Regions from separate parts of the Homo sapiens genome. Here region 2 is linked to region 1. The links come from fine-mapping of genetic effects on gene expression. A gene starts in region 1. The other region holds a variant in brackets. All regions are shown on one strand. Distances are from middle to middle.

Region 1 (16,090 bases):
AATCATGCATGAAAATGGATACAGGCTAGGAGGTTATATACAGGCTTTGATTTTTCATTCTACACCTTTCTGTGCTGTTGAAATTTTTGTCATAGATCTCTGTCACTTTTCGAAGAAATAAGAGATTAAAACAATTCCTATGACTGCATCTTAAGTGAACCAACTAAAATTAGGTTGATGTTTACCAAAAGATGTGCTAGAGTCTCACTACAATGTTCATAGCAGCATCATTAAAAATAGCTAAAACTGGAAACTGCCCAAATGTTCACTAACAGTAACATGGGTAAATGAGTTGTAATATACTCATACAGTGGAATACTATACAGCAATGAGAATGAATGAAATATAACTACATACTACAAATGAATGAATATCCCAAACAAATGTTGAAGAAAAGAAGCCAGATACCACATTATACATGGTATGATTCCATGTATATTAAGTACAAAAACAGGCAAAACTGAACAGTGATGTCAGAAGCCAAGATGGTGGCTACCCTCGTGGGGAAGGGGATTTAACAACTGGTAAGGGCTATGAAGGCGGCTTTTGGTGGGATGAGGAAGGGAGCCGGGAGTGTTCTGTTTCTTAATATTGGTATTGAATGCACAGAGGTGCTTACTTTGTGAAAACTCATAGAGTTATATATTTATGATTTGTGTATTTTCTTGTATGTATGTTATACTTCAATTAAAAAGTAAACAAACATGCAAAACAGGCCCAAATTGAGGCGCCTGAACATTCCCTTACATCAAGCTGATAATCCCTCTTGAGAGTTGGATGCCGAACTTCCAGCCTCCTAGAAATAAATACAGGTCAACGTGGAGATGGGAGTGAAACTGTGCCCCCTGATCATTTCATGAGCGCTAGTGTCTTGTACCCAAGTAGAGCCTTAGGGCAGGAAGGAACAGACAGAGAACCTGGATGCCTTCAGGGCTCTCCTGGGATGGGATGCTGTTCTCATATTTTAAATCTTTAGGCATATAGCTTGGCCTCTTGATAGGAGAGAAGGCAGAGAAGGGAGAGGAGCGGGGATGAGAAGAGGTTTTCAGATGGGTCTGGTTTAAATTGAGGCTGCCTCCTGCCCCAGAGCCAACAGGCAGGCAAGATAGACTATTAGCAAGAAACATGATGGGGAGAGGAGGGAAGAGGATGTGTACTTCTTTTTAAACACTCACTGTGGTTATTTGGTTTGACATGGCCATGAGTGGGAAGATGCCTCAGGCTAAAAGGGCAGACTGGACCCCGCATTTGAAGCCAAGCGATCAAATCCACTGACAGGACATTTGTTCTGGGGGCTCAATTGTCAGTTGGCCATGGTTGATCTTCCCTTTGTCCAACTCAAAATAAATACAGCCCACTCCACAGGCCCAGCAGAGCCTCAGCGGAGGTGGGCGTCTACAGACCAAGCCAAGAGCTGAAAGAACCGCCCGCCTTACCACCCGCTCTCCAGCTGCCACATTGAAGCAGGCCTATGAAGAAGCCCCGCTCCAGCCCTGCCAGCCCCTTAGTCTCTTCCAGTGGAGCTGCGGGAGAGGCTGAAGCAAGGCCTTTCGTAGCTCGAGACGGGCAAGTTCTGAGTCAGCCTGCTCCTGCTGTAGGAGCTGAAGTCCAAGGAGGGCACAGAAGGGGTTAACCCCTGGTCACATAAAACTCACCACCATGGGCATAAAAGGAAGCAAAAAGAGGACTCTGAGCGGTCAAAATAGATTTTGCCAAGTCTACACATCCAAGTTTGTCCACTTCCTCATTGGAGGGGATGCTTTTGCTGCTACTCAGAACCTCTGGGCTCTTTCTCTATGCCCATTGCAAACACACTTGGTTTGCTGGTTTCCACGCCTATGGCAGATCAGAGTCAGAAAATTACAACAGATGTGAGGGGCTAGAGAAGCATGTGCTGAATGCATCGTGATGTTCTGATTAACAACCTGACATTGAAAAGGGGGCAGGAAAACTCGGAAGATCCAACACAGGATCCACCAAAAGTCCAGTAGCCCGAGGCTCTTTCATGGGAGACAGGCAGTCCCCCAGATTTCTCAGGGGTAGGGAAGGATGCAGGCGTGTGTCTGGCTCTAGGAGCTCTTCCCTGCATGGTGAGATGAAAGGACTCAGGAGGCTTGGGAGAGATTGCAGGGTCGCATGGCTGCTGTGCAGATTCTGCTGCAGAGCTGGACTCAGTTTTGAAGTCAAGGAGAAGCCATGGGAAGTTTCCTAAGATTTCCATCTTCTTTCTTTTTTTTTTTTTTTTTTGAGATGGAGTCTCGATCTGTCTCCCAGGCTGGAGTGCAGTGGTGTGATCTCGGCTCACTGCAACCTCCGCCTCCCAGGTTCAAGTGATTCTCCTGCCTCAGCCTCCTGAGTAGCTGGGATTACAGGCACACGCCATCATGTCTGGCCAATTTTTGTATTTTTAGTAGAGATGGGGTTTCACCATGTTGGCCAGGCTGGTCTCAAACTCCTGACCTCAAGTGATCGGCCTGCCTCAGCCTTCCAAAGTGCTGGGATTACAGGCGTGAGCCAACACGCCGGGCTAGTTGTTTCTTTTTAAAGTTGTGGGCTTAAGAAATAAACCTGTCAGCCATCAGAAATCTAAATAGGACATGCTCTTCCAGGTTTTCTTGATAGTGGCTGTTTCATAAGAATTGAAAGTCAGCAGGAGACAGGAGAAAGGATGTCTTCGAGCTCAGTCAAGAACCAGGAGAGGAATAAGGTCCCCCAGACTGGCTGGATCAGAGGCTCAAGAACATGCATTCTGTGTTCTGTCAGAGATCTGACTTGCTCCTTTCTAACTGAGGAAACTCAGACATGGTTTTAAACCTCTCACTTTGAAACTCAGTTTTCATATCAGCAAATTGGGTATTATTACCACTTCTAAAGAGAGATTGGGCGTATTAAATGAAACACTGTAGTATGTAAAGTGTCTAGCACAGAGCCTGGCATATTGGAGATGCTCAGTAAACATCATTTCCCTTCTTTTTCTAAAGTGGCTTTCATGAAGACAAATCCTTGCCAGCCCAGGACAATAATTCAGAAGTCTGGCTGGAGTTGCTGAAGCAGGTTCCTAAGGAAGCACAGCAGCTCTCACTGGCATGGCAAGCAAGCAGCCAAAGCCCTGAGAACAAGGTGAGGGGCAAGATGACAAAGTGAGAGACTGCAGGAACTAAGACGACAGAGCAGAGTGAATAAGAGCAAGGACTCTGTTCAAGATCTACATTAGGTGCCTGACTCCAACTCTTACTAGCTGTGTGACCTTGGGCAAGTTACCTAACCTCTCTGTCTCACTTTCCTCATCTATAAAACGGGGAGAATAATGATATCTGTATCACAGGGTTATTAGGATGATCAAGTGGGTTAATATAAGCAAAGCCCCTAAACAGAGTCTAGCACAGGGAAGTGTTCTTGCAGTGCTGGCCGCTGTCATTAAGCACACACAGCTTCCACAGGGCAGCAGAGTGGCTCCTGGGCAGATCCTAGGGGAGCAGGCTCTGTTGCTTGGGCACACTCCCTTTTTTACTATGTGCTAGCTATGTGGCCTGGAGCAATAGATTGAACCTTTCTGTACCTAAGCTTTCTCATCTATGAAAAGTGGAGATAATGATAATAGTACCTCCCTCAGAGGGCTGTTGTTGGGACTAACTGTGCCAAGTCATGTGGAGTGTTTAGCAAAGTGTCTGGCTCATATTAAGTACTCAGTAAATGTCAGCTTTTACTATTCCCCGGCTGGAAGGAACCCTAAAAACAATATGCCCCCTATTTTTTAAAGAGACATTGAAGCTAACAGATGTTCTTTTCTCCCTTAAGTTTTTAGGGCCTTTATTTCTGAATTTTAGAAAGGAAGATAGGATTCTTTATCTCTCCCTTAAATAAAAACACATTTCAGTACCTTTTTTTTTTTTTTTTGAAACGAAATCTCACTCTGTCTCCCAGGCTGGAGTGCAGTGGCATGACCTCAGCTCACTGCGACCTCCATCTCCCAAGTTCAAGCGATTCTTCTGCCTCAGTCTTCCAAGTAGCTGGGATTACAGATATGCACCACCACGCCCAGCCAATTTTTGTATTTTTAGTAGAGACGGGGGTTTCACCATGTTGGCCAGGCTGGTCTTGAAATCCTGACCTCAGGTGATCCACCTACTTGGGCCTCCCAAAGTGCTGGGATTACAGGTGTGAGTCACCACGCGTGGCCAACATTTCAGTACCTTTTTTACCCTTTCCTCAAATCCCTTCCTTCCCCCCATACAAGAATAGGAAAGGACTCCAGGAGCACTGTAGCCCACATCCCAAACCCTAGGCAGGTCTACACTCACCCCGGCATTTCTAACAGAGAAAGAGGAGGGATTTTCCCAGTATGAGAAACCAGGATCATGATGCTTCCATATTTCCCACGATCATTTTGGTGATCAGCTCAAGACAGGGTTGCCTGCCTTATACGGTAACTTGCTTTTGGCATTTTAGGGGAAAATTCTAAAAGCAGTTCTCTAAAGGGTAACAGTTCTCAGGCTTGGGGCAAGGTACTTTCTTTTCTATTCTTCTACACTGTTCCCCTCTAGACACACTGCAAATTGAGTTTAAAGAACAAGGGTCTAGTTATCGTGCTGTGATTGAGTTTTGCTACTGCCAGAGGACAAAGGCTAGATTGACATTAGATGAATGTGCCAGAGGACTGGTCTCTCTTTTTGTTTTCTTTTCCAATCCTGTTTCTCTCCTGGAGGAGAGGGAATGATAATTAGAACACATGCTTGTTCGACAAAACCTCCCATGTAAGTAATGTTCCTAGGAGGGAAGCCTCAACGTAATAGACAAAGAACTTCTAAATACTACCTTTAACTCTTATAAAGGCAAAGATAACAAAAGAAGAGGAGCCGGGGAGGTAAATCATAAAGAGAAGAAGGAAGAAGAGTGGAGAGAAGATATCAGTAAATATTTAAAAATGAGGAGCCCACCCTGGGCCCAGGAGCTGGCTCAGGTCATCGCAGGCTGTACTCTGACTTTTAATGCTGCAGCCAAGATGGCTGTGCCAAGAGCTGTACCCCTTGTCCAGCACAAACCTCCAAATTCCCAGAATCAGAGACTCTGAGAGATGGAACAATCCTCAGAGTTCTTCTATCCTGGAAAATGCATTAGTCCCTCTACCCTATCCCTAAATCTTTCTGCATAAATGCCTCCTGTGATGGAAGACTCAGGGCCAGATACAATCTTCCTTTGCTGGACCACTCCAAACATCCCAGAGTCCTTCCTAACCCTATTTGGAGCTAAAATCTGCCTCCTTTGACTTTGGCCAGCTCTGTCCTTTACCACTCTGGGTTGAAATGATGTTTCCCGGTAGTCGCTGAACAAGAGAGGCAGATGCTAGGTCTCCCATATATGGGCTCTGGGATGTGACCACCTTGGCTCCTATCCAAGTTCAGCAACTGACTTTCAAGCTCTGTGACCATTGGCAAACTACTTAATCTCTGTGTCTCAGTTTCTCAACTATATATTATAGAATGGAGACATTAATAGCCTGACCACTTTGGTACTATTATTATGAGGATTAAATGAGATAATCTGTGAAGAATTATATATGGCATGAACAAGTCATATATAAAGTGCTGAGTAAACTTCAGATACTGAAGTTACACAGCAGACTGTGGGCTCCTCCAACGCAAAGACTGGGTCTTATTCATCTCTGCAACTTTTTTGCCTAGCACGAAGTCTGGCTGAATATTTGGTACAAAATACATGTTTACTGGATAACTAAATAATCGCAATAATTAATTGGCAATTATTCTGGTGTAATCCCCTGCACATGATCGCGTGTTCAAGACAAGCATTTTTGAAAAAAAATCTATCGCCCAATCCTCCCCTGCCCCCACCTGAGCCACTATTTGTTACTACTCAACCCAGAACTATCCTACTTCTCTTTTCAAAGTGGAATGGAGAGACTTGGCTTGAGGCAAAGGTCACAAGAGCCAAACTCCAGGCATCAGGTCCAACCCTGTGAGGAAGTTGCTGTGAAGCGTGCGGCACTGTTTTCCTGTAGCCAAAGTTATAAAGTGTGATTGATGTGTTACGGTTTAGATGGTGAGGATATGTGGCTCTGTGGGCTGTAAGCCTTCCGGAGGGCTGGGGCCTGAGAGACTTAAGGGAAGAGGAGTAAGAAAGCTCCTTTGGAAAAATGAGTTTAGAGAGCAGGATGTCATGGGATGGGATGGGGAGGAGCGGGAGTGGGGGTAGACAAAATTGGGGAGGAGGAGGATCTGGGAGCTTACCTGGGCCCTTCATCTAGCTAGGGAGATAGAGCTCTCAGGAATGTCAGCAATAAGCTCAGAGCACAACTGTACTAGTGTAAGATCTCCAGCCACCAAACAGAAACGGTACCACCTGGAGAAAGAAAAAGGGCACTAAGGGAAAACTGGAGTCGGAAGCAAAATGTTCTACCAGGAAACTAGATCTCAAGGAACTGCTTGTTACATGTTCAGAGTACTTTCCATCCATCAACTCATGCCCATTTCAGTCTTCCAAAGTCAACAGCTCCAGCGTGCCTGGTCAGTGCTGAGCCCAGGACTCAACACGGGTGCTGCAGGTTGCTTAGGGGCACGCCAACATTTCAAGGGCTATAAACGACAGACCAAGTGTCCGCTCTGTTTAAGAGACACAAGTGGAGATAGGAAAGAACCTTTGACTTAAGTGTGGGGGTGGCAGGGGCAGGAACTGCCCCAGAGTTGGCCACCGTGGGACCCCCATTGCTAGGGGCTCTCTCCTGTCACTTAGCATCTTTCCTCCCCACCGCTGGCACGCGGCGTGAATGGCAGGGCACTCCAGCAGGACGAGAACAGAGCTCCGTCACAGGCCCCCAGCATCCCCGGAGAGAAGATAGAGCCGCCCCACGGCCTTCACAGGAGGGGGTAAGGGGGCGGAGAGGGGAGAGGATTGTTTGTTTATTTGTTTCCTGGAACACCCTGTTAAGAATCTCAGCAATTGCAGTTAGTGCCCTATCGTTTGGCAAGCAGAGCCGCTTCTCGTCGTTCCCAGCTGCACGGGATCTAATTCGCAAATACACCATCTTGCATTCAATACTTAAATGGAAAACAAGCAGCCCGGGGAGGGAGGCAAAAAGTCTGAGTCTGCATGCCCGTTTCGGAGGGATTTAGGTTTCCAGGTCGGTGGACTGGCTGCTGCTGTCCCCGGAGAGGATTTCTTTGAGCCCGAACCCTGTCTCACCTCGACTACAGAACCCACTCTGGCGGAGGTTACGAGCCGCAGTTAAAGAGAAAACGGGATTTGGTTGGGTCTTAGGCCTTGCCAGTACAAAATAGTAACAAAAATCTGTTTGAGAGCTGAGATTTTAAAAGGAGATGCTGCTTATTCTTCCCACTGGAAACCTGGTTAAAAGAAATTAAGGCCTCTCTTAAAGGTAACTAAGATTAGAGGGCTCGGTTTCCGTTTTCTGTGTTTCTGTGGGCTAAACGCCCAGGTCGGTCAGCGAGTTTGTGTGGAATGACGAATTCCTCTCCCCTGAATTCTAAAATGATAACTTTGCTTGGTGCTGCAGCTGCGAACGTCTGGCGCCAAGAGACCCAATTCTGGTCGGGGCTTTGCTGGATGGAGAAGTGGGGGTGAGTGGGTAAGGGGGAAGAGTCGTGCCTCGGTGAAAAGTCGGGAGAGCGGCGAGAAGGGAAGTAACGGCGGCTCCTCCTGGCCTCGGCCCCTTTAAGTGCTTCACTGACTCAGCTAAGCTTCCCCCTCAGGTCGCGTTTTTTATGAATGAAAAACGTCCTTACATTCATTATATAAACAAGCCTGTGCTGATTGGCCAATGGCCCCCGGTGCATAAATTATGTAAAACAGACCCCTGAGGGGGTGGAGAGAGATGCACCGCTGGCCAATGGGGGCCGGAGTTGATGGGGCGGCTTGGTTGGATTTGCCCGCAGACAGGGTAAACAAGAGGTGATGGACAGCCGCGGGAACGGCCTCTGGCCAATGGGAACAAGGCTGGGCTAGGGCCGCGGGCCAATGGCGGCGGGCGGAGCAGCGAGCCGCGGGGGGCCGGGCCAGCGCTCCAGCCTGGTTGGCAGCTGCGGCGCAGAGTCCAGCCGCTGGTGCGCGGAGCGGTTCACCGTCTTCGGAGCGGTTCGGCCCAGCCTTTCGCCCAGGCGCCCAGGCCCGCTGCGCGCGTGCGTGAGCGCGCCTGCGCCGCCGGGGCCGCTGCAAGGGGAGGAGAGAGGCCGCCTCAGGTGAGGGGGCTTTGCGGGGGCAGGGGGGAGATCGGAAGGGGCGTCCGGCCACTGGTCCGACAGGCCCAGCCGGCTAGAGTTCACGGGCTGATTCAGAATCTTCAAAGTCGGGGTGCAGTAGCTGGGGTGACCCCCCCCGGGTTGACCGCCCCCTCCCCCCGCGGCCCGGTCCGGTTTGGTTCCTGGGAGGCGTCGGGCGGGTGCGGCTAACGGTTCCGGAGCGCGGGGAGAGCGGCTTTCCACACGTCGTGGGGGAGGCGCCCCGGAGCGCGAGTGCGGGGGCTCCCGAGTGGATGGGGGATCGCGGAGTTGCGAGGCTTTCACAGTCTCTGGAGATTCGAGAGCCCCGAGGGGACTTGGAGGCTCGCGAGAAGAGACGCTTGGCGGAGCTCCGCAGTTGGGAGGAGGGGGCGGGAAGCAGTTTGAGGGGAATGTCTGAGAGGCGCTGCCCCCCAGAGCACCGGGAGGGGGTAAATGACACAGGCAAGTGCAGCCTGCGGGGGCGGGGGTCGACCAGGAACTTACGCAGGCCTTGCAAGTTTCAGGTGGTGGAAAGTGGACATCCAGTCGCCCTGCTCCCACCCAGCAGGCTGAGGGCGTCCGGCTGTGCGGCGACTCGAGAAAATCGGGGCGCACCGGAACAGCGGCCTGGGGATGGTGGGGATAACACGGGTGTGGAGGGGACAGCACCGAAAGATGCTGCAGCCTCGCAGCGGATTAGGGTTCCGGCCGCATTTTCAGAGGGTGGAGAAAACTCGGGGGGGAACCGAACTCCTGGTCGACGAGGGGGTGCCAGGGAGAGATGTTGGGGGTGGGGGGATTGGAAGCGGTTGGTAGCGCCGGGCGCCGCACCTCGTTTTTATGAATGTGGGTGACTTTATGAATGAAGCGGGTTTCTTTCGTTGGCTCGCTGCTCCCTGCGGCTTTTTTTTTTTTCTTCCCTTTTTGTGAATGAAGCATTGAGCTTTCTTCCTAAAACGCTGGGGTGAGGGGCCTGCGTCGGAGGCTGGGCGTGCGTTGGAAATGGGGGCGGGGGCGCAGCTGAAGGAGTTTTCATGAATGGGGAAGGCTGAGAATTGGGTGGAAGTGTGTCTTGTTTTGTGAATGGGGCCCAGCGCTAGAGATCCAGTTACAGCCTCTACCTGATGTGGCGGCCGCGGCTCGCTCTCCCATTCATAAAACCGGGCCCGCTGCGCGCCACAGGGGAGGGGCCTGGATCGCGCCGCTGCGCTGTGCTAAAGTTTTCCTGGGGGCGCCCGGGGCGCGGGTGGTGGGGGGGCAAAGGAAGTGGTTTAAACTCCTGGATGAACTCGAGCCTTTCCTTCAGGCTTTTAAAAAAATTATACTTGGAATACAATTTTTCTAACCCTGGAATGCCTCTTTTCCGTTCGTTTATGGCAGTTTATTTCTTTTAATTTTTTAGAATTTTTTTTGCTCTTCCGGGTGAAGTATTTCATCATGAGACTGAAAAATATCTCCCCCTCCCGTCTTCTACTGGTTGTCCCCTTCCTCCTAACACATTCACAAAATGTCTTAGGCCATGATTTAATCTGACAGATTTTCCTAAGCGACAGAGCACTCTCTCTTTCATGCCCCTCAACTCACTGCTGAGGTTTCTCAGATTTTGTATACGGTTTGGTGGCATTTGAGAGAGGCGTTATTCTGAACATTTCTTGTGGTGTTTGGACGGGGCACGCAGGCAGGCTGGCGCGAGTGTTTTTCTAGGAAGTTATGAACTGTGTGCTATTTTGCTCCTCTCTTTCCTTTGACTTTGAAAATATCTGATTCCTTGGGCCAAAGTGCTGCGGAGGATGCTGGCTGTGAAGGGTGTCCTTGTATCCTGCCCACTTATGAAAAATTTGATATGCTACACACAGTGTGAAAAACAAATTGGATGGAATTGCTCACCGGGGGAAAAGTTTCCTGTTTAAAATTGTGTATATGTCAAACAAAAGAAGTTGACCTTTAAGCATTTTGAATTGCTTAGAGCTGGAGTGAGTGAAATTAATGTTTTTCCACCTTTTGTTGACTTAACGGTGTTTTTATTTGAAGAATAAAAGTGTTTAGGAAGATGGTACCTCCCTGAAATTGTTACTTTATTCCACTCACGTTAGGAGAAGTTTTCTCCCTTCTAACCCCACCCTTTTTCCCCAGACTCACACACTTACCCGTCCTGAAATGAGTTTCATTTGGGGGTGGGGGGGTATGTCTAGAAAAAAATGATTCCGCTATATGAAACAGCCTAAGTTTTAAAAGACCTTTGGTAGAGATGCATTGTACCACATGCAATGGAATTAGTTTTTTTAATCCATTACTTTTCATAGACATTTTACTCTTTTAGAAGTTGGAGATGTCACAAATATCTCTGTAAGTAACCAGGGAGATATTTGTGACATTACAGATGCTATATCTGTTTAGTCCTCTTTTAAATAAAGAGTTGTGTGTGAAGATAAGTATACCTCTGATCAATTTATTCCAGGAACTATATATAGTGTTTTAACAGTGACCTACAAAATGCTTTTGGAAACACCATGTATGTCAGATCTTTAATTGCCAATAATTTGGAATACTTAAACCCAGTTTCTCTGCTTCCTGACACTGTACTGTCAAAAATTAAATTATCTCTTTTTTAAAAACCCTACTACAAATGCCCTGGAGTATATGAGAGAATCTTGAAATCACCCTTTTATTTTATTTTATTTATTTATTTTTGTTTTGGTAGAGAACAGACAGTAGCAAATCTGTAATTTTAATGATTTAAATAAGAAAGAAAAAATGATGACTGGGTAAATGGATTTGGCACGGAGTACATCCTGTACCTCTGATACCATTAATCAAGCCCGGCATTGGTGTGTAAAGCTTGCACCTTGAGTAGGTTTTAAGTACTTCACAGAAGGGTAATAATTTTGCACAGGCCCTAAAAAAAAGGCAGTCTAAAATTGTTTCATTTCTTTTTTTCCCCCCTCTTAGTTAAAATCTCCCAAATTCATATTACAGGAGGATCCCTTTTCCCCCAGAAATTACTCAATGCTGAAACCTCTCAAAGTGGTATTAGAGACGCTGAAAGCACCATGGACGGGTTTTATGATCAGCAAGTCCCTTTTATGGTCCCAGGGGTAAGTTTATGTGGCTTTTGGTTTGTTTTGTCCTCCCTCTCCAATATGAGTCTTCCCCCTGTGGACCTCTTTACTACACTTGAGCCTTCACTTTCTGTTGGCCTCTTTCAGAAATCTCGATCTGAGGAATGCAGAGGGCGGCCTGTGATTGACAGAAAGAGGAAGTTTTTGGACACAGATCTGGCTCACGATTCTGAAGGTAGTAAAGCTTTCCCTGATTATGTTGTGGCTTCCCTGCTCCCAGTGACAGTAGCGTGTAGATTCTTCCCTGTCTTCTCCCTAGCGAAAGAAATATCCTCATTCTGGGGTCTTCTTTTTCAATTTCAGAGCTATTTCAGGATCTCAGTCAACTTCAAGAGGCTTGGTTAGCTGAAGGCAAGTTTCATGGATGTCCTATTTTCCATATAAAACATTTTACTGTGCTTTTTAATAAAACTTAAAGGTCTAAAATAAAAATCTATTTTCCAGCACAAGTTCCTGATGATGAACAGTTTGTCCCAGATTTTCAGTCTGATAACCGTAAGTACCTTTCTGGTGATGGCACATTTGTTCTGAAATTGTTTGGTCTTAGATCATCCATGTCTAGAATATGCTTTTTTCAGCTATGGCCAGATTTAGACAGTAGTATGCATTTAGTTTCTTCTAATAATTCAGAATTAACCCTGAAAACTTTTATTTCATAATAAAATTATTTCTAAAGTATTTCTACTGTATTGCAGGTAAGATTTACTGAACATAATTTTATCCTAAATTTCTTTTTACCTTAAGAATATTGTAAAGCTGACTGGGCACAGTGGCTCACACCTATAATCCCAGGGCTTTGGGAGGCTGAGGCAGGTGGATCACTTGAGGTCAGGCATTCAAGACCAGCCTGGCCAATATGGTGAAACCCCGTCTCTACTAAAAATACAAAAATTAGCCAGGTGTGGTGGTGGGCGCCTGTAATCCAAGCTACTCAGGAGGCTGAGGCAGGAGAATCACTTAAATCCAGAAGGCGGAGGTTGCAGTGAGCTGAGATCGCATCACTGCACTCCAGCCTGGGCAACAGAGCAAGACTCCATCTCAAAAAAAAAAAAAAAAAGAATATTGCAAAGCTTTAAGCTCAAAATTATAAATTAACTGACAAAATATATTTGGTGTTAGGCCAAGCATCTATTAATCACACATTGTTTTATGGCTTTTTTGGGGTTTGTTTTATAAATTAAGTCCTTGATGTGAATCATGAACCTGATATTTCTCTTTTTCTTAAAGGTGCAGAAAATAGTTAATGGAAAACTCCAGTTAACTTTGGCTTCATCCAACATGTTGTCAATTTTGTCTCTACCCCTAAGCTGACAAGGGGTGGTCACAGAGTGGCCTGATTTACTCTTACTTTTCGTGTAGTTGCTGTGGCTTTTCTCTTCAGAGAAGAGAAACTTTTTCTTAAAATGGCCACTAAGTGCTCATTACTAGAGAGAAAATGCAGTGGGAAGCTCAAAAGATGGCTTTCAACACTGGCAGGGGCATGGTTACTTTGCACTGATCTTTTGGGGCTGTCCTCAACAGGTTTGGGAGCTTTTATGGTCTAGGCAGAGTTATGAAGGACAAAGCCGGCTGATGAAATTTGAGCAGCACAGGGCTGCTCTAGAGAGCATTAGTCACTGGCGAATGAGCAGGTTTAAGAGAGGCCTGGAGAAAATGCTGCCTCTCTTGAGAGTTGCATCATAGAGAAATTCATGTCTCTTAGTCATAGTTTATAATAGCAAGCACCTGAGCCATGCAAGGACTCAATTTCTCATTTTGGACCAACAGATTCTTCCCAGCTTTGTTTTATCTCTGGGTAGGTGGGTGTATGTGTGTAAAAATGCCACTGGAGAGAGAGTATCTTAGGTCTCTCTCTAAGTAAAAAGTTGGGTATTCCAAATCTTTTAAATGTAAGAGCAGAGGTAACAGCTAAACATTCCTTAATGATAGGCCTCATGTCCAAGGCACAATGCCATGAAACTGTAAAAGGGAATAAACTGGAACACACACATGCATGGTTACCTTAGCTTTGTCACAGCTTGCTGTGGATGTGTTCTATGGGAGAGTAAATGCATGTTAATTATTGCCCTTTGATTGCTTTCGAGTGATTGGGAAGCTTGCCACTGAAAGACTAAATAAAGATAATCCAAGTGTGTGTGTGTGTGTGTGTGTGTGTGTGTGTGTGTGTGTGTGTGTGTGTTTGCAAGATGAAAGACAGGGTTTGTAATCCAACTTTGTTCTGTGTTGACAATTTGGCCCAGCCTTTCCAGTTCTTGCTCAGAGCAGCATAAACTGCAGTCTGTTTGGGAGGTGGCTTTCTTGGCAGAGGTTCTTTGAAATGCTTTTATGACACTTTTGTTTGTTTCTCTGTAACCCAAAAGAGTTAAAAGGGAGATGAGATGGCTGCATTCAAATTGATTGCATGTGCTGAAGCAAGGGTATGTTCTTTGTCAGCAAGCAGGATTTATATTTGGAGAGATATTTATCTGTGGGAATAGGCTAAAGTGAAGAAATCAATAAATGTGTTTTGGCTCTTTAGAAATAATTTCTGCTCAGCAAATAGAATGTGCTAAGTTCTTTAATTAAAATTCCATACCTCAAGTGGAGGTAATTTGGGAGATGTTTCTGCTTACCAAGTATGATGTTTTTTTTACTTTGCTTACTTTTTGTTTTAACTGCCTAAGGTTGAGCCTTTCTGTCTTTTAAGGATAAAAGAGATGGTTGACTAGCCTAGAAAAGGTCTTCTAATGATTCTTTCCCTCTGACTTTATTTCTTGAGGTAGAGCTTCAAGAAGGGATAGATTCAAATAGAATAACTTGCTTAAGAAGCAAGGCAAGAACACAAATGTGGGTGGTGCATCTTTGAGCCATTCATTCTTGCAAAAGCAAGTTTGTTTGCCTGCAGTTCAGACCAACAGCCAGAAGCATGAGGAGGAGCTGGCAGAGCCCACAGCCGGCTGCATGCACTTACTTTTCCATGAGCGCTTTCCACAGCCTCGAGTTCAGGACCAGCTTCACTCCAGTCATTTTCTGGAAGAGCTCGTGATTTTTTTCAGGGGAGGGAAGAAAACTCATTCAAATTTAATGAAACCTTATGAGTTGGTTTGACTCACTTAACCAATGAATATAAGCCAAACTTAGATTTGCCAGGGGAAAGCAAACCTTTTTTTTTTTTTTTTTTTTTGGAGAGAGAGTTTTGCTCGTCACCCAGGCCAGAGTGCAATGGCGCAATCTCGGCCCACTTACTGGGATGTCCACGTCCCAGGTTCGAGCAATTCTCCTGCCTAAGCCTCCCGAGTAGCTGGGATTACAGGCACCTGCCACCATGCCTGGCTAATTTTTGTATTTTTAGTAGAGACGGGGCTTCACCATGTTTGCCAGGCTGGTCTTGAACTCCTGACCTCAGGTGATCCGCCCACCTTAGCCTCCCAGAGTGCTGGAATTACAGGCGTGAGCCACTGTGCCCGGCCTGTAACAAATATTCTTACCAGTGGCCACTGGTAATACACTTTCCTATTAATAATGATTTGATAATTTTCCATTGTATATGTGTAAATTTATTGTATACATGAAAGAAAGAGAAATACTAAGAAATGTAGGTAATATTTTTATTTTGGAATGTCAGTTTTAAAGATTATGGCTTTTTTTTTTCTCTAAACACTAAAAGTTCAACTTCTAAAGAGATTATATTTTGTAAGTTTCTTAGAATTGGGTTTCCTGCCCATAGGGATACATCCTTAAGTCTGATTTGAGTGAATGAAACCATTGCTTTTATATCTTATAGAAATGCCCAGCTTACTTCTAGCTGTACAGATTTCACCTCTACCTCACACATATAGATATCAGTAAAGCATGGAGACTCTGAAAGGTCAAATTCAAGGGAATAGAAATCTATAGATCATAGGGATTCTACCAGTGGACCTCATTGTCCCTTGGTCCTAAGAAGTAACTCTGAAGATCTCAGATTGCTTGAGTTGGATGTCCTTTGTAGAGACAAGCTTGCCCAGCCCCCTCCTTTCACAGCTATTCCCAAATAGCTGAAGAGACTGACCAGTAGTGGGGGCAGATGGGAAGGTTTAGGTGAAGTAAGAGGAAGATGTATAAAATAATATTCTTAAAGAAGCTCTCACAAAGCTGCAGAGCCAGGGAGTAGTGGCATATTCAAGTGTATTCAGGGTCTCCATTATTTCAGATACCTGGAGATGGTGTTCAGGAAAGCATCTGGGAGGCCTCTGGCTGTCCAATTCAGCACTCACTTCTCTTCCTTCTATGATCCTGAGAAAGTTACTCAATACCTTCATGCTTTGAGTTTTTCCATCTAGGATTTGGAAGACAGAGAGTAATTATAAAAGAAAAAAATTATAAAAAACTGACATATTTAGGCTCACACCTGTAACCTCAGTGCTTTAGGAGGCCAAGTCGGGAGGATCTCTTGAGCCTAGGAGTTCGAGGTTACAGTTGAAGCGAGTAGTGATCACACCACTGTACCCCAGCCTAGGTACCAGAGCAAGACCCTATCTCTAAAAAACGAAAACAAAAGAAAACTGCCATGTTTCCTAGAAGACACCTTTCGTGTGTATACAGATAAAACTGTGTACATATTTCCTATATATGAAAAAGTGTTTGTGCATGTGTATATATCTATGTAACTGTGTATGTAGCTAAATGTGTACCTTAACACATAGAGCGGCTAAACCAGGGAATCTGGGTCAGTGCATAGATGTATGTACATATTTACTACACATTTTCATAGAACTAACT
Region 2 (16,090 bases), 57 kb after region 1:
GATACCAAGATACGATCCTTATCCTCAAGGAATTTAGAATCTTTGGTGGAGGATATAAGATCAAGCTCTGACATTATTCAGTTAATTTCTTAATAGCACTTACCACAATGTTGTACAATGACTATGTTTATTTTTTTAACTACCATTTATTACACACTTATGTACCAGGAGCTACTCTTGGCACTCTGGTATGAAGATAGAGAAATAGATCAGTTGAATGATACTAAATTAAACTCTTATAACAACACCATAAGGTAGGAATTTTTATCTGCTGCAATGAGGACACTGGAGCACAGAGATTAATTTATTCAAGATCGCACAGCTGACTGGAGTCCATCAGTACTATGCCACCTCTCGTTTCTTTTTCTCCTTTATTGTCTGTCGCCCCCAGTTGAGATGCAGGCTCCATGAGAACAAGGACCAAGTCTACATTCGCCTGGCTACCTACTCCCTTCTAGCACAACGCCTGGCATAAATACTTAGTGGATTAAATAATATATAAATGACAATAAAATAGACTTTGATGTCGTTAAGCAACAGAGAACTAATGCTTAGGGCTGAGAAAACAAAAATGAATAATATAAACCTCAAAGCAGTCTCAGTTGTGCAGAGTTTCTTCAGTCCCAGGCCTCTTAAAAATGGTGCTGCTCCTGCCAAGAAGCTACTTGATCTGGGTTGACTGAAGAAACAAAGAATGGTGAAATTATACCTTGGCACCTTTACTCACGGATTTTTCCTTTCTTTTTTTTTATTTTTTATTTTTATTTTATTTTTTTTTTTTTGAGACAGAGCCTCTCTCTGTTGCACAGGCAGGAGTACAATAGCGTGATCTCCACCCACTGTAACCTCCGCCTCCTGGATTCAAGCAATTCTCCTGCCTCAGCCTCCCAGGTAGCTGGGATTACAGGCGCCCACCACTATGCCCGGCTAATTTTTTGTATTTTTAGTAGAGATGGTTTCACCATGTTGGCCAGGCTGGTCTCGAACTCCTGACCTCAGATGATCCACCCATCTTGGCCTCCCAAAGCGCTGAGATTACAGGCTATTTGTCTTCAACAAACCAATCTAAAATCACTTATTTCCTACTCCTCCATAAGCCACATAGCACTTGTTATTATGGCTATCCTCATTCAGAACCCTTAAACCTTATAATTGCTCATGGAATTATAATTGCTCACCACCGTGCCCAGCCTCGTGGATTTTTTAAGTCGCAGTGAATCCTTCTCAGATCTAATGGAAGTCCTTCATTGCAGAGCCTTTTCACCTGCCTGCCCCCACTGCATTATCCAACACACACAGACCTGTAGTATGAGCCAGGTGAACTAACAGGAAAACGGAGCACAGGGAAGCACTGCTTATCAGACAGGAGCCCTGGGGCATTCTCCTAAGACGTGTGCTGGTAAAGGAGTATGCACTGGAGACCTTACACCTTGAGACAGGCTGAACTACAAGGAGGGATGTGACCCCATCCAAGTTATCTGTTACCTGGCTTTGATTTGAACCACCAATCTTGACAAGGTGCCTAGCGACATGGTGGTTAGCACTGAGTGTATATTAGGGGTTTGTGGATGAAGACTGTCAGGCCATCCTTCCTTCTTGAGCCCTTTAACTTTTTGCCTTGCCTTCTTTTATTTCGTTTGCATGTGTTGTTGGGCCAGTTCCTCCTTGACCTCTGTTTTGTCATCTATACAGTGAATTTGTTTCATTGCTAGAAAGTCTTTTCAGATCCTCTCCACTGTTTGGTAATAATACCCCCAATACTGCTTTCGAAATCCTCTACAGGCCCAAGTCTTTATTCATTTTGGCAACATTCTTTACCCTTCAAGCTCTTTCGTAATTGAACGAGGTATGTGAGTAGCTTGGATGAGTTAGTAGGAAAGGTTGAAATTAATTTTAGCTAAAAGGAAAATGGCAGGTCTGTGTACAGATCAACCAAATCCATCCAGCTAGGCCAACTGAAATAGAGATGTGTTTCCAGCTGTAAAGGCTTAGTCAGAGCAACATTGATCCATGCAGACCTCAGAAGCAAAATGCAAAGGAACGTACTGGTGACTCAGCACTTCCCTGCAGTCTTAGCTGTAAAAGCAGGAATTGATGCTGCTCTGACTGAGGCGCAGGTGATTACATCAGAATTGGAATGCCTAAGCCCTCTTGAAGTCCCTGAAAATTCAGTCTGCCATAGATACAGCAGTAGGACTTAGGATCTGAAATGATAGGATTGCACTCTAGTCCTTAAATCCATAGTTTTAGTACAACACAGAATTTGTTAAGCAACGTAGTCTTTCTTTTAAATTCTCTTTCAGGTTTTTCATATGAAAAAGATCCCCGATTATACTTTGACGACACTTGTGTTGTGCCTGAGAGACTGGAAGGTAAGTAGCCCCATCCAAGGTTTGTTGCCAGGTAGAGGTTTGGAGGTGTCAGAACACCTCAGCCATGACTCTCTTCCCAAGTCCAGTGATTAAATCAGCATGAACAACTCCTTTTTGTCCCAACCACCTGAGAAACTTAGGACTAAGCTATTGTGTGATGTGTCCTTGTCCCAAACAGGCAAAGTCAAACAGGAGCCTACCATGTATCGAGAGGGGCCCCCTTACCAGAGGCGAGGTTCCCTTCAGCTGTGGCAGTTCCTGGTCACCCTTCTTGATGACCCAGCCAATGCCCACTTCATTGCCTGGACAGGTCGAGGCATGGAGTTCAAGCTGATAGAACCGGAAGAGGTATGCACTGGATGCTGGACTCAGACGGGTTTTGATTTGTTGTTGTTGATGATGTTTTTTGTTTAGATTTCCATTGAGGCTTTTTGTGTCAAGTCTGCTCTTGCTTCTCATTCATATTCTGGCCTGGCCAGTGGGCTTGGCTGTATCCCTCCTATTAATGGGACAGTTTCTAATACATGGACAGGCAGAGTTCTCCAGTGTAGAATACATGAAAAGTATTTGTAACACTTCTGCAAAATTTAGGGGGCAAGATCATGAAGACTTATATTCAAATAGGATATGCTCTCCCTCTTGGAAAGTCTTTTTCAGGTGCTGTTTCAATGATACAGACTTGTTTTGGTCTTAGCCCCTGTGGGCCATAGTCTATCTCTGAGTCTACGTGAACATACTGTATGACATTTTGACAATATATTACAGGATACAACTACCCACTGTGTATTTCAAATGGCTGTAGCCTGGAGAAATAAAATTATCAGAGGTGGCTCAATCTTAATGAGCTTAGATTTTTTTTTTCAAAGGTGTGTTATGGCCGGGTGCAGTGGCTCACACCTGTAATCCCAACATTTTGGGAGGCTGAAGCAGGTGTATTGCTTGACCCCAGGATTTTGAGACCAGCCTGGGTAACATGGCAAAACCTTATCTCTACAAAAAATAAAAGAAAATAAAAATAATAAAAAATTAGCTAGGCATGGTGGTGTGTGTCTATAGTCCCAAATACTTGGGAGACTGAGGCAGGGAGGATCGATTGAGCCTGGGTGACAGAGCGAGACCCTGTGTCCAAAAAAATAAAATGAAAGTGTGTTATGTGACATCACAATAGAGTAGTTGAGAGATGATACAAACCTCAGTTATTTTAATAGGAAAAAAACACTGTTACTGTTTTTGTGCCCAGAACAGAAATACACTGTTGACAGAACCAGTGCCGTTTCTTCAGTGGAGAAGACACACCCTAGAATCCCTTTCCTGAATATCACATAACAAAGTAAATTAAATCAGGCTCTCAGTATAGCATATTCTAAAGGGGTTGATTTTTAATTTCTGTTTGATTTAGAATCTAGAGAGATTATAAATGGAACAGAAATAACTGCCCAAAAAAACTGACATACGCTTCTTTTAGTAGCATGTTCTTAGGCATATAAATTAAACCAGCAGATCAAAAGGCATCTTTGGGTTGGGTATAATTAAATTGGGAACAACACTCTTAGACACTCTTAGAAAGCATTTGAACGAGAATTGCTGTTTTCAGTGTTCAGTTAACTCTAGGGCTCGCTTTAGCACACCAGAGAAATACGCTGGCATGGGGTTAACAGGAGGAGGTAGCAACCGGGGACTTGGTTTGGAACAAGAAAGTGGTCTAAAGATTCAAATGGGAAAAGGAGGAGAATGTGTGGATTAGAAATTTATGAAGAATCCTGATTGATAGGAGAAGAAGGCAGACTTCATTCAAGGCAATTAGAAAACAAGATGTGCCTATGTGTTCCCTGTTTTATATTCACTCACGAGAATGGAAATGTGTCAGCATCTCTAGATGGACTAATTAAACAGCTTCTATTCGGTTCAGTCTACCTTCAGAGCTGGAGTTGAGTGCCACTGTGTTAGTTTAGTGCCTACGTGTTTTTTTCTGGCCATGTAGAAATAGAGCCATGTTTTAGGCTTCTAGCATCCCTGCAGAGCCATCCACCCCACGCCGACCCATGCCTCTCCTCACTGCTTTCTGAATAACGTGGCCTGGTTTATGTGAAGTTTGAGAAAAGCATGTCACCTAGGTTCACTGAGGCTTTCTGAAAGTAGTTCTGTCATGTGGGCAGCCCTTATTGATTTATCTTGTTTCACAAACAGGAGCTTTTATTATTTTATTGCCACTGCCTCGGGCCTAAGCACAGGCCGTCCAGCTGCAGGTAAACCTGGTTATGATCCTTCGTAAAGCTGTTATTGAATCTTCTGCACTCCTACCAGTGGCATAGAGAATGATGAACAGATGGCAAAGGGCCCCTGCTTTCTTACTTAATAAAGAAACTAATATTAATACAGAATGCTCGTAAATGCCAGGCAGCCAAGTCATATGAGAAGCCTGTGGTGTCCTTGAGCCTCCCTCGGTTGACCGGGCAGCTTTGTTTCTTCAGGAAATGGTGCTTTCCACCCCACCTTGAAGTCCCCAAGCTTTCCCTAAGCTCCAAATGTTCCTTTCTCTTCACCCAGGATCAGTTGGGTGCCACATGTGCACGTTAGCCTCAGGACAGGTGACATTTGCTGAGCTCCCCCCACCCCTCCTTGTATACCTGTGAGGGCCCTGTTCTTGTTAATGTCAGGAAGATACCAGCTTCTGGAAAAAGCTGTAAGAAGTCGTCATGGGGGAGCTTGAAGGGTGAAGCGGAGGAGGAAGCTGTTGGGACGTAATTGTAGGCAGCTGTGTGGCTGAGTAGTGCACTCTGGGTAATTATCCATAATATCCATTACACTGTGCATGGAAATTGTGGTTTTAGAACTGCGTTTTGGCAGGCCCCCTAATCAAATGTCTTTTGATAGTCATCCAGCTTAGCACCCTCTCAATTATGACTGACTCGGCTTTAATCTGGAGCCATTTTAACTGTGAATCTGCATTAATGAATATTTTGGGGGGTAGGGTTGTTTGTTGAACATGTGGCAGATAACTGCTGCTGGGAGGTTTGAAGGGATGGGCTGCTAGAAAGAGCCACTCCCTGGGCTGTGGCTGCTCTCTCTTTAAAGGGGAGAAGGAATAGGTAGATCCGTTAACTCCTTCAGCCTCAGTCCTCAAGATACGTGCTACCAAAGTAACTAATGAGAGAGAAGAAAGATCTGATGACAAGCTATTGCCTGCCTCCCCAGTCCCAGAAGAGGGGCAGCCCTAATTCCCAGCTGCTCTGGAGCTGAGCCGCCTCATGCATTACTGTAGAAGGAACAGCCGTGGTGAGGGCTACAGAATCACAGGGCTCTGGCCCGGGAGGATGAGTCAGTAACTATGGCTACCAGAGCTGCTTTGAAATCTGTGCGTATACCAAACCTTTCTCCAGTAAGCAATTGCATATGCAAGTGACAGCTGAGAGGTGGCCGCTGAAGTTGAAGAATATTCAAGGATTGTTTTCCACCCCTTAACATAGTAAAATGATGAGGCTGGGCTTCTCTGAAATTTCCCTGTGTCACTTGTGGCAGACAGCAATTAAAGATTAGTTTTATAAGGCATCATTGCTTTGAACAGGGTACAATGATGTATATTATTAGGTTAGCAGATGTCTCTTCTTACCATTATTTCTATTGGTTTTAAATGTTTATCTTCTCTAACCAGGATGTAATTTTTGGTTAATTTTGCCTTTTGGGCTGTTTCAAAGGTAGAGTAGAGTGGGTACCATATGGAGAAAAGAGGAGACCCAGGACATCGTGTCTGCTGTGGGGACATGAAGCAACTGAACGGAAATTGGACTTTCACAGGGTTTCTTGCAAGGCAGAGCAGAATCATTGCTATTATTGTAATTAAGAGAGATGCATTCTTATCAGATCATTTTTGGCTTTTATGAAAGGTCATTTTAGAATCCTGAATTTAGAAGATGTTGCTTTCATTCTGCCTAGATATTTTAAGGAAAAGGTTTATGTGAAATGCTGTTTTCTCTCTGATTCCTACTCCATGTTTAACATTTGGCTTTTAAAATATCGAAGGGGCCGGGTGCAGTGGCTCATGCCTATAATCCCAGCACTTCGGGAGGCTGAGGCAGGTGGGTCACTTGAGGTCAGGAGTTTGTGACCAGCCTGGCCAACATGGTGAAACCCTATCTCTACTAAAAATACAAAAATTAGTTGGGCATGACAATGGACACCTGTAATCCCAGCTGCTCAGGAGACTGAGGCAGGAGAATCGCTTGAGCCTGGGAGGCAGAGGTTGCAGTGAGCCATGATCGTGCCACTGCACTCCAGCCTGGGCAACAGAGTGAGACTCCATCTCAGAAAATAAAAATAAAATAATCGAAGGAATATAGTTTGTTTTTTTTTTTTAAGTTTCCAAAACTGACCTAAAATGCTCCAAACGTGACCCCTGACCCCTGGTTTGCATACATTTGAAAACCTCTGAGTAAAACTCACATTTCCAGGGTTATTCT[A/G]CTACCTTGACAGTCATTCTCATAAGTAGGATTTTGGAAGCTGATATACTTGAGAACAGAAATTGCTTGGCTGCCGTGATAATTGGGTAAACTCTACTAGGAAGTTTTCCTGCTAGAAGGCTGCTTTGCCCAGAGCTCCAATTATATTGCCCTATCAGTGTGCCTCAGGTGGACTGGGTTGGATATAATGCATTTCAGAACTGTTTGGAAAGCCCTGTTAATTTTTCATTAAGTGGATAATGGTGCTACATGCTTTCATGTCCATTCTGCAAGTCTGCTGGGAGCATGGGATTGGATGGCAGCAGGCTGAAATGATCTGATTCCCCCTTAGTCCATGAGCTGCAATAAGTAAACATCTCCCAGCCCCCCTCCAATCTTATTAGAATTGAACTTTTGCTCTGCTGGCCCATTAGCAACTCACTAGTGTGTTTCTAATGTTTCAGGAATGACCATTCTAATTATTCCTTATTGACTGCTACAGAAACCATAGCACTTAATGGCAACACGTTAATGGTCTATGGGTATTGGTCAATAATTCATACGTGGAGAAATAGTAGAGGGCCTGCATCCTCTGGGATGTTAGCCAAGCCCTCTGCAATCTTAAAGTGCTAGGATTCTTCCATCTCTAGGTCTCACCTCCTAGTAGTTGTCACTGAATCATCGCCTTTGTTGAATGTTTGGTCTTGAGGGAGTTAAATGCCTTCCCTTCCAGGTCAGAGTAGCAGATCATTGACCAAAGCAGTCAGGTTACAGAACTGGCTCTGCTGGGATTGGGAGAGAACATGGGGCCCAGGGAATGCGTTTCCATTGCTCTTCACTTTCCTGTCTCTTCAGGTTGCTCGGCGCTGGGGCATCCAGAAGAACCGGCCAGCCATGAACTATGACAAGCTGAGCCGCTCTCTCCGCTATTACTATGAAAAGGGCATCATGCAGAAGGTGAGCCATTATACAAGACCCTTAGCCCACTCTGGTCTCTTTTAAGGAAAAAGTCCAGGGCTTCTGTAGTGAGACTGGTGATCGTCGCTACGAGGAAATTTTAGCCCCCTAAGTGATTCTGTGGTAGGAAACAATCTTGAGAAGACAAACTTGAGACAAGAATCAAATGAGATATAGAGTACATTTGATGCTGTTGGTTATGTGGAAACTAGAAGTTGCATGCAGAACACACAATAGAAAATTAGGCTTCTCTGCTTTCCCAAAACTGCTTCTATATATAGAAATTTCCAGAAACTTAGGCCAACTGTTGTATCCAAAAAGGACTACAGGGAATCAACTTGAAGGTCTCTACTTCAACAGCTTGATTGAAGTCTTTAGTTATTAAAACACCTAGACCTCCAAATCTGTTAGTTTGATATGCTCAGAAGTGTTAGAGGAATAAGAGCATCTGATTTTTCTTTCAGACTTACAGAAACTGGAACTCAAGTTAAAAACCCAACGTTTGTAGAATGGCAGCAGAGTCACCTGGTAGCAGGTTGCTCTTTGTGGAATAGAGGATGAAGCATATTTTGAAGAAATCAGTACAAAATTCTTCGTGGGATAGGTAGCAAGGGGCCACAGTCTTAACATCCCATGGATAAGTAGAAGATGGGAATGGCAAGTCTTTCTTAGCTACCAAATTCGTAATGTACTGTTGCCCAGATACTAGCATTTACACATTGAGCCAGTCTACCTGGCAGTAGCCAATAAGATGAACGTGGCAGAAGCATATGGGCAAAACTGCTGAGAACTTGTCTACAAGAAGCCAGATTCATCTTTCTCATAGGCGGGTGGTAATGTGACCCCATATTCTCCTCGCCACCTTAAAAAATACTCAACAGCTCATTGTGATTTTCTGGATAAACTCTAGACTTGCTAGTGCGTCATACAGGCTCTGAGGCTGTTCCCAGTCTGGTCACCACCTAACTCTCGTTTCTTCACTCAAACTTGACGGCTTTCACTAGCATAGCCACCTTTTAATGTAATGTAGTATTTGTTTGCCAAAGAATACATGTTACATGCATGTACATTATCAAGCATACCATAAAATGGAAGACACCTATTAAACTGTCATCCTACTTAAGACCTAGAACATTCCTAATGCTCTCAGTACCTGGCCAGCCCCTCCTTGTTTTCTGTCACCTTTCCATTTCAGATTGGGTTAGGTGGTCCCCTTTGCTGCTTCTGATGGCACCAGTACTTGTTCCTACCACTGCTCTTCTCGCTGTGTCTTAACTCCTTTCTTGTTACTACCCCCCACTGGAGTGTAAGCTCCTTTGGGTTAGGAATTGAGGTTTAACTTCAGTGCTTGATACAGAGTTAAATGCTGTAGGATAGGTGGTCCCCTACCTTACCTCTCCTTTTTTTAAAGTATACGGTCCAGTGGTTTCACAGAGCTGTACAACCATTACCACAATTAATTTCAGAACATTTTATCACCCCAAAAAGAAACGCCATACCCATCAGCAGCCACTCCCCATTGTCCTCTATCCTCCTTAGAGTTGATATCATCAGGCCAAATCCTAAGTTCAGGTGGGAGAGCCATTATTCCTTTGCTGTTCCCAACTCCACATCCAGCATGGGGAGATGCAACCCAGGACACAGTAACTTGAACCAATGGAAATGAGCTGTCCTTATGACTAGCTTCTGTGTTTTCTAAGGGAGTAGAAGAGAACTTTATTTCTGAGAATAAGTAGGCAAAGAGTACAGGAAGGCCCAGGAATGAGGCTTCGTGGGCTCAGATCCTAACACTTCAATTTGTTAGCTGTATGATTTGAGGAAAGTCACCTAATCTCCCAAAGCCTCTATTTCTAATAAAAATATAGATAATAATTCTTGCTTTAATCCCACAGGGTAATATATTTGAAAATATTTCAGAAATAATAATGTGCCATCCAGTGTAAGGAAGGGGTTATTATTTTATTTGTTACATGACTCACGAGTACATGAGAGCTCATTAAAAGGTGAATGATAGCCCGTCGGTGTGTAGAGAGACTTAGAAAAGCTGTAGTCCCATGCCCTCCATTTTTGAAGGGAAAATTGAGGTTCACAGAGGTTAAGACTCATTAGTGACTAAACCAGGACTGGAAGCCGTGCAACTCCCAGCTTCTGATCTAGGATTATTTCCACTGTGCTCTCCTGCCTCACTCTCCCACACAAACTAATTTTTGGGGTTGGGCTTTAAGGTAAAACCAGCGTACAACACTAACTAGAGGTGGTTGATTGGTAGAGATGTGGAAGCAGAGCCATACTTGTTCAATTAAAAAAAGATTTTAGAATCACAGCAGAATGACTGAAGGGCAGGATTAAACTCAACAGTTTGCATTTTTAAATCTAAAATGTTTATCTTATCAGTAAATTTGGCTGCCTTCCCTTCCCCCTCTGCGTCTCCAGACAGAAGCCGATTATTGGGTTTGATTTTCGGTATTAGGTGCCTCTTGTACTATTGCTGAACAACCAGCAGAGAGAAGGTGATCCCATTGACGCAGATGTCTCATCAGCCACATACCATGAGGTCCTTGAACAACCAAGACCTTCTGGTTCTAATATTATAATGCAGAAAACCCATAGAAAGGTAGTTAGCGGTTCCCTCAGTGTAGCAGAGCCATGCGGTGAGTCATTTAAAGCTGCAGGTAAGCCAAAAGCAATTCTTTTCAGCTTTGGAACATACTTAAGGCTTCTGCGCAGGCTCGCTCTCATCAGATTTCTAACCTTTCTAAATAACAAGGCCATACTGTGAAGACTGTAAACTCTGGAAGTGACTAAAAATGTGGTCAGGCTTCTGCCTTGCACCTGTCAGTCCTTAAACCTTTTTGGAACACCAGACTCCAGGCTCAGCATAACCATGCTTTCAAAGCTGTCACTGGAAGACAGAAAGTGAAGATTTTCTTTTAAGAGTCCATCTAGTGTGAATTCGAAATTCAGATATCTTCTTTTTTAACTGCTGTAGTGTCAGTAAAACACTTGGCAGATAATAGGTTCCCAGGAGTTCTCAAAATAAGTCTGAGTGATTGGGGTAATCGGCTGCTCCTTTGGTCCCTGGCTTTGTGACTTAGGAATACCTCGTTCTCTTCCCCTGATCCCATGCCCTGTTCCAACTGGGCCCTGTAAGGTGTGTGTTCTCCCGCAGGTGGCTGGAGAGCGATACGTCTACAAATTTGTCTGTGACCCAGATGCCCTCTTCTCCATGGCTTTCCCGGATAACCAGCGTCCGTTCCTGAAGGCAGAGTCCGAGTGCCACCTCAGCGAGGAGGACACCCTGCCGCTGACCCACTTTGAAGACAGCCCCGCTTACCTCCTGGACATGGACCGCTGCAGCAGCCTCCCCTATGCCGAAGGCTTTGCTTACTAAGTTTCTGAGTGGCGGAGTGGCCAAACCCTAGAGCTAGCAGTTCCCATTCAGGCAAACAAGGGCAGTGGTTTTGTTTGTGTTTTTGGTTGTTCCTAAAGCTTGCCCTTTGAGTATTATCTGGAGAACCCAAGCTGTCTCTGGATTGGCACCCTTAAAGACAGATACATTGGCTGGGGAGTGGGAACAGGGAGGGGCAGAAAACCACCAAAAGGCCAGTGCCTCAACTCTTGATTCTGATGAGGTTTCTGGGAAGAGATCAAAATGGAGTCTCCTTACCATGGACAATACATGCAAAGCAATATCTTGTTCAGGTTAGTACCCGCAAAACGGGACATAGTATGTGACAATCTGCATCGATCATGGACTACTAAATGCCTTTACATAGAAGGGCTCTGATTTGCACAATTTGTTGAAAAATCACAAACCCATAGAAAAGTAAGTAGGCTAAGTTGGGGAGGCTCAAACCATTAAGGGTTAAAAATACATCTTAAACATTGGAAAGCTCTTCTAGCTGAATCTGAAATATTACCCCTTGTCTAGAAAAAGGGGGGCAGTCAGAACAGCTGTTCCCCACTCCGTGGTTCTCAAAATCATAAACCATGGCTACTCTTGGGAACCACCCGGCCATGTGGTCGCCAAGTAGAGCAAGCCCCCTTTCTCTTCCCAATCACGTGGCTGAGTGTGGATGACTTTTATTTTAGGAGAAGGGCGATTAACACTTTTGACAGTATTTTGTTTTGCCCTGATTTGGGGGATTGTTTTGTTTTGGTGGTTGTTTTGGAAAAACAGTTTATAAACTGATTTTTGTAGTTTTGGTATTTAAAGCAAAAAAACGAAAAACAAAAAACAAAAACAAACCTTTTGGTAACTGTGCACTGTGTCCTTTAGCCAGGGCCGTGCCAACTTATGAAGACACTGCAGCTTGAGAGGGGCTTTGCTGAGGCTTCCCCTTGGCCATGTGAAAGCCCGCCTTGTTGCCTGCTTTGTGCTTTCTGCACCAGACAACCTGATGGAACATTTGCACCTGAGTTGTACATTTTTGAAGTGTGCAGGGCAGCCTGGACACAAGCTTAGATTCTCTATGTATAGTTCCCCGTGTTCACTAACATGCCCTCTCTGGAAAGCATATGTATATAACATGTGTCATGTCCTTTGGAAACCTGGTCACCTGGTGAAAACCCTTGGGATTCTTCCCTGGGCATGACTGATGACAATTTCCATTTCATCAGTTTGTTTTGTTTTCCTTTTTCTTTAAATCTTGGACTTTAAACCCTACCTGTGTGATTCAGTAGGGTTTGAGACTTACGTGTGATACTGACAGGTAAGCAACAGTGCTAGCATTCTAGATTCCTGCCTTTTTTTAAAAAGAAATTATTCTCATTGCTGTATTATATTGGAAAAGTTTTAAACAACCAAGCTAAAGCTATGTGAAAGTTGAGCTCAAAGTAGAGGAAAAGTTACTGGTGGTACCTTGCTGCCTGCTCTGCTGGTAGAATTCTGTGCTCCCCGTGACACTTAGTACATTAAGAATGACTACACTGTTCCTCGTATGTGAAGGAGGCAGTGCTGACTCCGTGAGTGTGAGACACGTGCTTTGAACTGCTTTTCTATTCATGGAGCACTCCATAGTCTCAAACTGTCCCCCTTATGACCAACAGCACATTTGTGAAGAGGTTCGCAGGGATAAGGGGTGCACTTTATAGCTATGGAAACATGAGATTCTCCTCTATTGGAAGCTAATTAGCCCACAAAGGTGGTAAACCTGTAGATTGGGCCTTAATTAGCATTGTACTCTAATCAAAGGACTCTTTCTAAACCATATTTATAGCTTTCTTAACCTACACATAGTCTATACATAGATGCATATTTTACCCCCAGCTGGCTAGAGATTTATTTGTTGTAAATGCTGTATAGATTTGGTTTTCCTTTCTTTACTTACCCTGGTTTGGATTTTTTTTTTTTTTCTTTTGAATGGATTTATGCTGTCTTAGCAATATGACAATAATCCTCTGTAGCTTGAGCTACCCCTCCCCTGCTGTAACTTACGTGACCTGTGCTGTCACTGGGCATAGGACAGCGGCATCACGGTTGCATTCCCATTGGACTCATGCACCTCCCGGATGGTTTTTGTTTTTTTCGGGGGTTCTTTGGGGTTTGTTTGTTTGCTTCTTTTCCAGAGTGTGGAAAGTCTACAGTGCAGAAAGGCTTGAACCTGCCAGCTGATTTGAAATACTTTCCCCTGCGCAGGGCCGTATGCATCCTGCCAAGCTGCGTTATATTCTGTACTGTGTACAATAAAGAAGTTTGCTTTTCGTTTACCAAGCACCCGAACCTGCCTCTTTCTTGCCCTCATTGGTCTAATTTTAAAGCAGGCAAAAGCCCCCTGGCTTTCTCTCCGCCCCCGCCCTAGCCCTCTCAACAATTTAGCCTTACCAATGGACAGTGGCATCGAGGGTAGTTAGGGAACTCTGTTACCTGGAAATAGATGTGCACAGCTCCTCTTAAACTCCAGCTAAAAATTTAATCCAAAGAGGTGGAAAGTCGAGAGATCCTCTTCCCAGCCAATGGTGAGCTGAGATCACCTCATCCCCTTGAGCCCACCAAGCCACCAATTCTTAGTAACTCTTTTTTTAAGTGTAGCCCATGTTTCGCTTTGGGTTGTGTGAAAAGATTACAAAGCAGTCTAGGACTTTCGAGTCCCAGAATTATCCTCAGCCCCTTATGTGGATACTTTGAAAACCAGTAAGAACTTAAGACCATTCATTTTCTAATTTTTCCCCAATAAGTTTTGCTCTTGACAAGTGAAAAATCAATTAATGGTTGATAAATAACGAAAAAAGCTCAGGAAGGTTTTGCCCACTATGTTTTTTTCTGGCCGTGCAGCAGTAAAAACCTCCTCCTCCAAGTTTGTCTCTTTCTCGTGAATATGTATCACTCGGGAAATACGTGGAAGGAAATAAAGTTCGCCGGGTTGTATTGCGGTGTTATTACGGTTATTACGGTTTCTAGTGCTCTTATTTCACCCTTTTTCTGCACCTCTAATTTGGCCTTCTCAAGACTCCTATTACAGTGGAGAAATAAAGTAGAGCCTTTTTTCAAGCCTAGAACAGAAGGCTTTCTGTCAGTTTATCTGCTATCTTTCTTTACTGTTTTACAAGCCTCTAAGTGTAGAAACATCGAGACTGAATGAGTGCACCGCCTCTTGAATTGGAGCTTGTGAGGAATGAATGTCTGCCACATAAACCCCATTAGCTTCGACAGATTAAGAAAAGATGCTTGGGGAGAAGGGGCAAGGGTGCGCAGGAAAAAGCCGTCTCTGCCTCTCAGCTTCACCATGATAAGGCTTTAACAATCCGCTCCCCATTATTCACGGGCTCGTTATCCAGCCTGGGCCCGGACCCAGATCGTTAACCTAACGCAGGAGGTCACCAAACACTGCCGCCCTTCTAGTGTTGGGCGCTAGGATAAGGAAGCTCAGAGAATGGGAAGTTTACTCTGCATCAGGGTCCCCTTTCATGAGCCAAGCCAGGGAAACAATGCGTATTCAGTTGTTAGATGACAAAGAGGTAGTGTGAGCGCAGAAGAATGTGGTTTTGAGAGCCAGAGTATGTGCAGAATCTAAATTCTAATGCAGCTGGGACAAATGTAAACTAATGTGGAAGAAAAACACTAATGTACCCAGACGGTTGGAAACTTTGGAGAGACCGTTCATTGCCCAGCGGTGCAGGTGGCTGCTACTCAATGTGTGGCCTCTGAAATACAAGAGAAAGGAAAAAAGTCCAGAAGATCATCAGTTTAATACAAATGCATAGTGTAAGTATTGTTTAGTACAAATACATAGTGTAAGTATTCTATTCAACATAAGTGTATTGTACTTAAAATAGGGGGAGGGTGTGAGGGTGGTACCAGGCGAGCGGCTATGTCCTTTTGATCCCGGCAAGTACACTGGTGTCCCATTCAGAAGGGGCCCTTTGAATGACCAGCCTTAGCTCCTCCAACTTTAAGAGCTGGCTCTACACCCAAGCCTGGGTTTGTTGACCTTGGCAGTGAACCTCAGGTAACCTTTGGGTAGCACTTTACACAGCACTTTTTCATCTCCATTATCTTTTTGGCAGGCTTTCTGAAATGGTAATACTGTTGAAATTGAGTCTGAAAATACCATGGCTGTTAGCCTCCAAAATTAATTTCTTTTTTGGAATTTTCACAGTGGCTACTGTGGAAAGAGGACTAGTCCCTTGGAGCCTAGACATTTGGGTTCTGGCCCCAGGTCAGTGGTTGATTGGGTTTAACTAAATGGTCTCAGGGGACCATCTGGCCTAACCTCCTAGGTTCATTGAGGGCACTGATGAAGTACTACTCCCCGATCTCATAGGCAGTAAGGGAGAAAGAAAGGAGTTTCCTAGGGGAGTCAAGGAATGTGTGTGCGTGTGTAGGAGAGTTAACAGTTAAGAACATCATTCTCAAGTCACCATTTTTAAGCAAGCTCTGAAGATGGCTCAGTTCCACCATTAATGGCACATTTCTTCTTTTTCAATCATCCACTGAGCACCTGCTAGGTGCCAGGCACTGCTGGATGCTAAACATAAATGATTTAGGTGGCATTTTCAAGCTAAAGCCCTGTTTGTGGTATAGTAATTGTGTGACAACCTCTTACATGTTTAAGTGCTATACTTTCCAGGTAATACTTAAACACCACTGACACCATCTTATCCAGACTATGTTGACCAGAAGCTGGGGAGGCTGGGGCATTTATCCTCCAACTCCTGCCCTTATTGGTTGAAGGTTATCCCCAGAGATGTTAACTCTTCAATATATATCCTATCAGGAAGAGAAGAGTGTAGATGCAGATAATCAGTGTGCTAGGAACTGTTTTCAGATGCAGTTAGCTTAGGGGGTTGAGGGCACATGGAGCTGGCATCAGTGATGTCTGTGAC

Alleles and levels. Alleles are on the strand shown, and positions count from the first base shown. SD is a standard deviation of normalised expression in the study named.
With allele A in place of G in region 2, the expression in monocytes after interferon gamma of the gene that starts at base 8,061 in region 1 is lower (large effect, 1.2 SD a copy in Fairfax 2014).

Evidence for each region.
Region 2: its variant is fine-mapped to the expression of ETV5 in monocytes after interferon gamma (Fairfax 2014, PIP 0.95).

What each region holds. Positions count from the first base shown.
Region 1 is chr3:186,101,060-186,117,149 of GRCh38, reverse strand. It overlaps ETV5 (ETS variant transcription factor 5), which reads left to right and starts at 8,061. Exons shown (of 13, transcript NM_004454.3): 1 at 8,061-8,210; 2 at 11,208-11,326; 3 at 11,438-11,525; 4 at 11,654-11,701; 5 at 11,795-11,845. The coding sequence starts at 11,282. RefSeq lists silencers at 7,749-8,378, 8,409-8,508 and enhancers at 7,542-8,520, 9,279-9,338.
Region 2 is chr3:186,043,705-186,059,794 of GRCh38, reverse strand. ETV5 (ETS variant transcription factor 5) reads left to right here. Exons shown (of 13, transcript NM_004454.3): 10 at 2,304-2,372; 11 at 2,551-2,720; 12 at 7,664-7,765; 13 at 10,935-13,481. The coding sequence ends at 11,156. Among named protein-coding and RNA genes, the nearest start is that of ETV5-AS1, 27 kb to the left of the region's middle. The variant A/G (reference allele first, on the strand shown) is at 6,830.